Linked DNA regions of Homo sapiens: region 1 is linked to region 2. The links come from fine-mapping of genetic effects on plasma protein levels. Region 2 holds a variant in brackets. A gene starts in the other region. All regions are shown on their reverse strands.

What was found. PIP is the posterior inclusion probability: the model's chance that the variant is causal. The UK Biobank Pharma Proteomics Project read protein levels with antibody pairs (Olink). The fine-mapping took linkage between variants from a reference panel, not from the people measured, so its PIPs are less certain.
Region 1: it holds the start of EPHB4, and the variant in region 2 is fine-mapped to the plasma level of the EPHB4 protein (UK Biobank, PIP 0.99).

What each region holds. Positions count from the first base shown.
Region 1 is chr7:100,825,781-100,830,161 of GRCh38, reverse strand. EPHB4 (EPH receptor B4) reads left to right here and starts at 2,639. Exons shown (of 17, transcript NM_004444.5): 1 at 2,639-3,183. The coding sequence starts at 3,132. It also overlaps a transcript of SLC12A9 not described here. RefSeq lists enhancers at 248-1,043, 1,840-2,635.
Region 2 is chr13:106,125,071-106,129,452 of GRCh38, reverse strand. No RefSeq gene overlaps it. Among named protein-coding and RNA genes, the nearest start is that of LINC00460, 250 kb to the left of the region's middle. The variant G/A (reference allele first, on the strand shown) is at 1,705.

The sequences.
Region 1 (4,381 bases), not on the chromosome of region 2:
CAGGCTGGTCTCGAACTCCTGACCTCAGGTGATCCGCCTGCCTCGGCCTCCCAAAGTGCTGGGATTACAGGTGTGAGCCACTGCGCCCAGCCTATTTATTTATTTACTTATTTATTTACTTTATATATTTTTTGGAGACAGAGTGTGGCTCTGTTGCCCAGGCTGGAGTGCAGTGGTGCAATCTCTGCTCACTGCAACTTCTGCCTCCCGGGTTCAAGCGATTCTCGTGCCTCAGCCTCCCTAGTAGCTGGGACTACAGGTGTGTGCCATGATGCCCAGCTGATTTTTGTATTTTTAGTAGAGAGGGGTTTCACCATGTTGGCTAGGCTGGTCTCGAACTCTTGGGCTCAAGTGATCCACCCGCCTCGGCCTCCCAAAATGCTGAGATTACAGACCTGAGCTACTGTCCCCAGCCAGAAGACATAACTTTTAGAGGCTACAGGATCTGGGTACAGAGTGAGAGTGGCAAAAGGCAGGGCAGGGGTTTGGGAGAGGGTTGCAGAGAACCCCGAGGGAGAAGCTGAATAAGAGAAGGGGAGACTGGGCCTGCATCGGGGAGGGAGGAGGGAATTCCCAGCTCCAGCCTGGTCTGCCTGGCTCCAGTGAAGCCGGCTGTTTCCTGCCCTCGGTGACCGGCCCACCCCCCCCAACCCGGGCGCAGGACCCAGGCAGAACAGCAAGGAAGGGCAGGGGTGTGGGGAACACCTCTTGCAGCAGGAAGATAAGTAAGCCGGGACAAGAGGTTATCACAGGCCCGGCTGTCCTTTCTGGGACGTAAGGGCGCTTGGCAGCCCCCCAAGCATCCTGGACTCCAACGTCTCTCTTGCTGGGCTCCAACGTCTCTCTTGCTGGGCTCCTCAAGATTCTGTCCTCCGGCTGGGCGCGGTGGCTAACGTCTGTAATCCCAGCACTTTGGGAGGCCAAGGTGGGTGGATCACTTTAGGTCAGGAGTTCGAGACCAGCCTGGCCAACATGGCGAAACCCTGTCTCTACTAAAAATACGAAAACTAGCCGGGGTTGGTGCCCTGTGCCTGTAATCCCAGCTACTCGGGAGGCTGAGGCAGGAGAATCGCTTGAACCTGGGAGGCGGAGGTTGCAGTGAGCCCAGATCACGCCACTGCACTCCAGCCTGGGAAATAGAGGGAGACTCTGTCTCAAAAAAAAAAAAAAAATCTGTCCCCGCTAATTACTGTGGGAGTCTAAGTCCTTTCCTTCTGCCCCTTGGAGGGGCTGACTCCTGGAGCAGCACCCCCTCCAATCCATCTATCCAGTAACCCATACTGTTAAGTTCCCTGAAGTAGAAGGGGGTTGGTGGGAGGAGCACGGCTGTGCTGGACCCTCCCCGCTAACTGATGGGAGGGTGAGGGGAGTTGGCAGTGAGAGGAAGGGCCCCTCCCAGCCATCCCGAGGGCCCCCAGGAGCCAGACAGGAAACAGCTCAGGAAAGACAGCAGCCGCAGCCGCAGCCCCAGCCTCAGGGGTCATGGCTGCGGGCGGCGGGGAAGCCCCCCCAAAACACGAGAGTGAGAGTGAGAAGGGCGATTTGGAGATCTAGCCGGACCCCTCACCCTCTCGGACACACCCACCTTTTTTTTTTTTTTTTTTTTTTTTGAGATTTCGTCTCACTCTGTAGCCCAGGCTGGAGTGCAGTGGCGCGATCTCAGCTCCCAGCTCACTGCAACCTCCGCCTCCTAGGTCCCGGTTCAAGCAATTCTCCTGCCTCAGCCTCCCGAGTAGCTAGGATTACAGGCGCGCGCCACCATGCCCAGCTAATTTTTGTATTTTTAGTAGAGACGGGGTTTCATCATGTTGGCCAGGCTGGTCTTGAACTCCTGACCTCAAATGATCCGCCTGCCTCTGCCTCCCAAAATGCTGGGACTACAGGCGTGAGCCACCGCGCCCGCCACACCCACCTTTTCTTTACCGTTGTTTCCTCGATTTTTCTCTACTCCCTAGCGCAGCTTAGTGCGCGCCTCCTCTGGACATTTTTCAGGGCTTGGTTGCGCGCACAGTAGGTCCCCAACACTGAATGTTTATGGGGTGACTGTGTGAACGTTCGCTGCAAGGCTATCCAAACTGGGATTGCTCCTTGAGGCCCCCTGGGCGGCCGTCAATTCTCCAAAGCTTCTACTCCCTTTTCCTTCCTTTTCCCCCAAAACGCAGTCCCTGCGCCCACTAGAGGGTGGTGGGCGCATCCAAGAGCGGCATCTAGAGTCCGCAGCAAGGTCAGAGCGGGCTTTGTGTGCGCGGTGAACATTTACGTGCACGCCTGGGCGGCCCTCCGTGTTGCTGCTGGGTGTGTGTTTTCTCTGCTCCCTGGTGCCAGCCGGGTTCGGGCCTGTCCCGGGGGTCCCTGGGCCCCAGCCCCGACATGCTCGGTCCTGGACAGCGCGCACCGCCACGGCGCACATCTGGGCGGTCCCGGGGTTCCTCACCCGCCGCCCCTCCCCCTTCTCCAAACTTTCTCTCAACTTCCCGACCTGCTCCACTCGGTGCCCCTCTCCGCTTCCCTCATGAATTATTCAGTAGCGTGAGCTCCAATCAGCGCGCCCGGGGCTCACTCGCGGAGCCCCCGCGTTGGGAGAGCTGCCCCCGCCCCCCGCGCGCCCCTCCCTCCCGGGCCCGGCGCCGCCCGGCCCAGTTCCAGCGCAGCTCAGCCCCTGCCCGGCCCGGCCCGCCCGGCTCCGCGCCGCAGTCTCCCTCCCTCCCGCTCCGTCCCCGCTCGGGCTCCCACCATCCCCGCCCGCGAGGAGAGCACTCGGCCCGGCGGCGCGAGCAGAGCCACTCCAGGGAGGGGGGGAGACCGCGAGCGGCCGGCTCAGCCCCCGCCACCCGGGGCGGGACCCCGAGGCCCCGGAGGGACCCCAACTCCAGCCACGTCTTGCTGCGCGCCCGCCCGGCGCGGCCACTGCCAGCACGCTCCGGGCCCGCCGCCCGCGCGCGCGGCACAGACGCGGGGCCACACTTGGCGCCGCCGCCCGGTGCCCCGCACGCTCGCATGGGCCCGCGCTGAGGGCCCCGACGAGGAGTCCCGCGCGGAGTATCGGCGTCCACCCGCCCAGGGAGAGTCAGACCTGGGGGGGCGAGGGCCCCCCAAACTCAGTTCGGATCCTACCCGAGTGAGGCGGCGCCATGGAGCTCCGGGTGCTGCTCTGCTGGGCTTCGTTGGCCGCAGCTTTGGAAGGTGAGTTTCCTTGCGGGGGGGGGCGCACCCCGTCACTCCTGGGACCTCCCCCCCAACATCTGGGCCTCGGAGTGGAGGGGCCGGCCTCTGACTACCCCTACCCGGGCACTGCAGTCCCAAACACTTCGGACCGATAGTGCTGGAACGGGAGGGGGGCGGGGAAGAGGCGCCCGACGGGTAGTGGAGTTTTCTTTTGTTTGGGAAAGAGATGGAGTCTGGCTACGACCCGGGACATTCCCCTGCCCGGGCTCCCCGAACTCTCACTGCTGATTACATACGCCCCTGGCTGCCTTTCCTTTCCTCCCTACCCCACTATTCAAAACTATCTGCAAAGTTTCTGTCCCAGTCCCACCTCCCGCCGTACATGAGGGAAGGTTTCTGGAGAAGCAACAGCAGACAAGGCACAACTTTTCGTGCTAGGCCCTAAAACGACCCCCAGCGCCAATTCCTTAGCGATCACACCTTGATCCTCCAGTTCCACACTCCTGCAACAGGATGGCCTCCTTTGCATTCACACAGCAAACCCCCAAACCGCTCTCCCGCCCACTGCTCCTGCCCCTGGTATAGGGTGGCTCCTTGGTTTCTACAGGCTGCACCCCATCCCTTTAAATGCGGTCTAGACCCCGGCCCCAGGTGAGTCCCGGGCTTCCCTTGAGACCTAGGAGCGGGTAGAAACTGACCTACACAGCCCCCAGGTAGAAACTGACCTACACAGCCCCCACATCGCCCTAACTAACCCAGTCTATCTCCCACCTCCTGGTCTCTCCAAGCATTTCTTTGGCCATGGATCGCTGTCCCTCCTGGTCCCCTAAAGGGGGAGCCAAGAGCCCTAGAAACTCTCCTGTGTCCCTAATGTCCTTTCAGTGAGCTGCCAACACCCCCCTTTCTCTGTCTGGTATGAAAGTGGTTATGGGGCGGTAGGCTATGAGGGACTCCCAAAGGGAAGGATTCAGCGGCGTTAGAAAAACCCTCTCCCCCTGGCTGGGCAGGACTGCCCTGGGCTGGGGATCAAAGGCTAGGTGTGGGGTTGGGAGTGAGGGGAGGCTTGCCCAGCTCAGAGAACGGAGAAGGGGGAACAAAAACCATGAACGAGGGGAAGAGGAAGGCCAAAGGGGTGGAAAAACCACGAGGACGAGGTGTGGTGAGAAGGAAAGACGCAAAGAGGAAATGGTGATTGTGACACCTATTACCTGAGTGT
Region 2 (4,382 bases):
GACATAAATAAATATTGACACTCTGAAGGGATTGCCTATCTGCTTTCTAGGTTATTGCTAGGAATCCACAGAGAATATGTGAAGTTAGCCTTTAAAGATAAATCACTTGAAGTAAGAGGAAAAAAATCATTACCGTATACACATATGCTTACATAAAAGGCAAACAAGGAAGTGGAGACAAAATGAGAAGTGGTTTAGAAAAATAGAAAAGAAAAAGAACCTTTGGGTTGATTATGGAGGTCCTGGGAGTGCAGTTTAACCCAGGAGTTAAATACAGCAGACTGGAATGGATCTGAATGGCTAGGTCTGTGTTGAGGACGTACTAGATGCGAGGAATTGGGCTAGTCACTCTGGATATAGAGTTAAATGGGACAATGTTTCTCTAGGAGAGTACAATAAGTAATGGCTTACTATGCATCCCTTACAGGTAAGCATGGAGGGCTCATTGGAATGCAGAATGGAAGTACTCATCCCAACCTCACAGGCTTATAGGAGGCTTGCCAGAGAAGGAAGGATGTGATAGCTGGATCCTGAAGGGCCATAGGAATTAGTCAAACAATGGGAGTGGGGTGGGCTTATGTAAGAGAGAAGGTGCTCTCCAGGTAGGGGACCAGTATGTGAAATAGCCCATGGATGGATGTGGGACTACAAGTTAGGTGTGAATTGTGTGTTTGGCAGAATCATGGTCACAGAAAAAATCCTGTGACTATATTAGGTTACATATTAGGCAAAAGCAGATTTATGTCACAGATGGAATGTTTGCTAAGCAGCTGACCTGAAAATAGTGAGATTTTCCTGGATTATTCAGGTGAGCTCAATATGATCACAAGAGCCCTTAAGAGTGGAATATGGAGGCAGAAGAGGAGGTCAGGGGGATGTGATGTGAGGACTCATCCTGTTGATTCTGGCTTTGGAGATGGAGGAAGGGGCCAGGAGCCAAGGAATGCAGGCAGCAACTAGTAGCTGGAAAAGGCAAAGAAATATTAGATTGGTGCAAAAGTAATTGCAGTTTTTGCTATTACTTTTAATGGCAAAAACCACAATTACTTTTGCACCAACCTAATCGATTCCCCCCTGGAGCCTCCAGAGTAGCACATGTCCCTACCAACACCTGAATTTTAACCTAGGGAGACTGGGTTGGGCATCTGACCTTCGAAACCCGAAGATAAATGTATGATGTTTTAAACCACTCAGTTTGTGGTAATTTGTGACAGCAACAACAGAAAATTAATACACAGGAAGAACGTATTGAAAGTGCAGTGACAGTAGCAGTGAGACTGGAGAGGCAGGCGAGGAGAACACTTTATGCCCTGCTCTGCAGTGTGGGTTTTATCCTGATAGTCATGGGGAGCCCTGGATGGGTTTAGGCAGGGGAGTGATATGCTTTTGTGTTTTAGAAATGTCACTCAGGAAATAGGAAGGACTCGAGGCTACAAAGAGTTCGGAGACTGTCAGGAGGAAATGCATTGACTTGGGAATTTTAATTAATCTGAATCAGCGCAATTTGCTGAGTGTTTATCTGTTGGGGAGGAAGAAAGGGCAACATCAAGAATGTAAGCTAGGTTCTTGACTGAAGAGTTGGCACATGATGGAAAATTCACTGATATAAGATACACAGTAGTAGGTAGGAATGAGATTTGCAAAACACTGGTAGAAAGTAGATGGTGTTTTTTTCTGATGGCCACTTAATTCTCTGAGAAGTAG[G/A]AGGTAAAGTCATCTATTGAAAAATAGTGGGTTAGAGGTGTGAAGTGGAAATTCTAAGGAAGAAAATTAAGTTTGCATCATCTGTGAGTAGGAGTTAGAATTTCTGTTCACAGTGAAAACAGAGGAATTAACAGGCAGCTGTGAAGGCTGCAGCGAATGTTGGGCCTCTTGAACACTTTATTTCTTATGACTGGAATAGGTCCCTTATTCTTTTTTTTTTAGAACGAGTTTTGCTCTTGTTGCCCAGGCTGGAGTGCAATAGTGCAATCTCGGCTCACCGCAACCTCTGCCTCCTGGGTTCAAGTGATTCTCCTGCCTCAGCCTCCCGAATAGCTGGGATTACAGGCATGCGCCACCACACCCGGCTAATTTTGTAATTTTAGTAGAGACAGGGTTTGTCCATGTTGGTCAGTCTGGTCTCGAACTCCCAACCTCATGTGATCCGCCCTCCTTGGCCTTCCAAAGTGCTGGGATTACAGGCGTGAGCTACCGCGCCTGGCCCAGGTCCCTTTTTCTTAAACTACCCAGCTCTTTGTTTTAGCTTTGAGATGATCCATTGAAAAATTTTCTCTGATGGGGATATGTCAGCTGGTAATAAAGTGCCTAAATCTGGGCCAGTTTGAAGCCCTGTATCATGACCCCAAAGACCTTTTGAGACAATGGCTAGCATGTTGGGTCATCACTTCCACTTTTGGATGCATTTCTTCCTCTCCGTAGCTTTCTGGAGAATCATATAATCTCAGTTGGAAAATAACACTTGTTACCTGGGCAAAGACCTTGACCTCAAGCCCACATCCTTCCAGGCTCTTCCTGGTTGCCCGGGTCAAGTTGTCCATCTCATTTTGAAAATTTCTGGTGTTGGAAAATACATCTTCTGATGACAGCTCACTCTGTTTTCGGATGGCTCCAATCCCTAGAAATTTCTTTCTTATATTGAACTAAAACCTACCTCCCTGTAAATTTTACAAGGTTATTCGATTTCTAGAGAATTCGTAGAGAATTTAATCCCTCTTAAATCTGACAACCTTTTCAGTATTGGAAGGCAGCTCGCATGTACCTCTCTAAGTCTCTTCTTTTCTAGGCTAAGCAGTCTCAATTTTTTTACCATCACCAGTTTTTCAACTGTTCTTCGCGTGTCAGGTTTCCTTCCTTTCACTATCCTGGCTGGATTTCTCTAAAACATCATATGCTGCCACAATTTTTTTGTTTGTTTGTTTAAGTATGGGGACTTGGGTTGGAAAAAAGCCTTCCAGGTATTGTTTGAGCAGCAAAAAGTAGAACAGAATATCATCTCCATTTTCTATAATCAGTGAGAATTGCTAGCAATTACCCTCCTAAGATACCCTTTTTCCTGTAAGCTCCTGTCACCAACCTCAGCTTAGGCTTCCCTTCTCTTACCTCGATCTTGTTTTCTTGATAGATTCCTTCATTCAGTACAAATCTGTTGGGTAGGTTCTATCTGTTAGGTCATCTGATGCGTATTGGACCTAAGGAAGGGAATAAGCTCACCTCTGCCATCAAGGAGAGCAAAGTCTGGTTAGAATAAAATATAAGCAAACAATATTGAGGGGATAGATTGATCAGAAGGAGTATCTATTGCATTGGAGGAAGGAGATATATGAAGGATAGTAGAAATAAAGTGTATCATGTTGGTGAATTCATTCATTCATCCAATGAATATTGAATTCATGGCCCATTGCTCTTGTGAGCACTGAAGTTACAGTAGTGAAGAAAAGTGTGTGCATTCTCTAGTGGAGCTTCGATTCCATAATGAGAGATCGGAAAAAACCAACAAAACCAAACCCAGATAGCAAGTAAACATGGAATAGCCTTTATTTGAAACAGGGGTCTACAAACTATGGCTTATTGGCAAAATCTGGCCTGCCACCTTTTTATGTAAACAGATTTACTGGAACACAGCCACGCTCATTTGTTTATGTATCACCTACGGCCGTTTATACGCTATAGTGACAGCCTTGAATAATTGCATGCAGAAGCCATGTGGCCTGCAAAGGTGAAAACATTTGCTTTCTGGCCCTTTAAGGAAAAGTTTGCTAGCCCCAGTCTAGAAGAATAAAGCAGGCAAGGGAGGAGTGGTGAGCCCTGGGGAGGGGCAGGAGGACCGATTTGTCTTTAGAGAGGTTGATCAGAAGAAGCTGTGCTGATGGGGTAACATTTGAATAGAGACCTGGGGAATTGCAGGAGCAGCCCTGTGGGCACCTGGGGGAAGACCACTCTAGGCAGGAAGAGAAAAGCAAAGGCAAAGCGCCCGGGGAGGGATTCGGCTTGGTGTGCTCCAGAAGGTGCCCGGGCAGTGAGCCCTGGAGTAAGTCATAGGAGAGGAGGCCCATCACACAGGGCATTGCCAGGCCCAGAAGAGAGCCCTGGCCTTGGCAGGGTGAGGTGAGGAGCCACAGGCAGGCTTTCAGCAGGGACGCAATCCCATTCACTGCTGGAGGGGAAGGAGGAAGAAGGGCAGATGAGAATCTGTTGCAAAAGTGGGGCTCTGGCTAGGATGTCATCGTGGAGAACACGACAGGAAGTGGCGAGACCCTGGGTTCCACCTGAAAACAGAGTCAACATGATTTCCTGATGACCTGGGTGCAGGTGAGAGAGGGGAGTCAGGTGTAATTCCTCTTTAAGATGGTTTTTATAAGGAAATAATTTCAAACTTACAA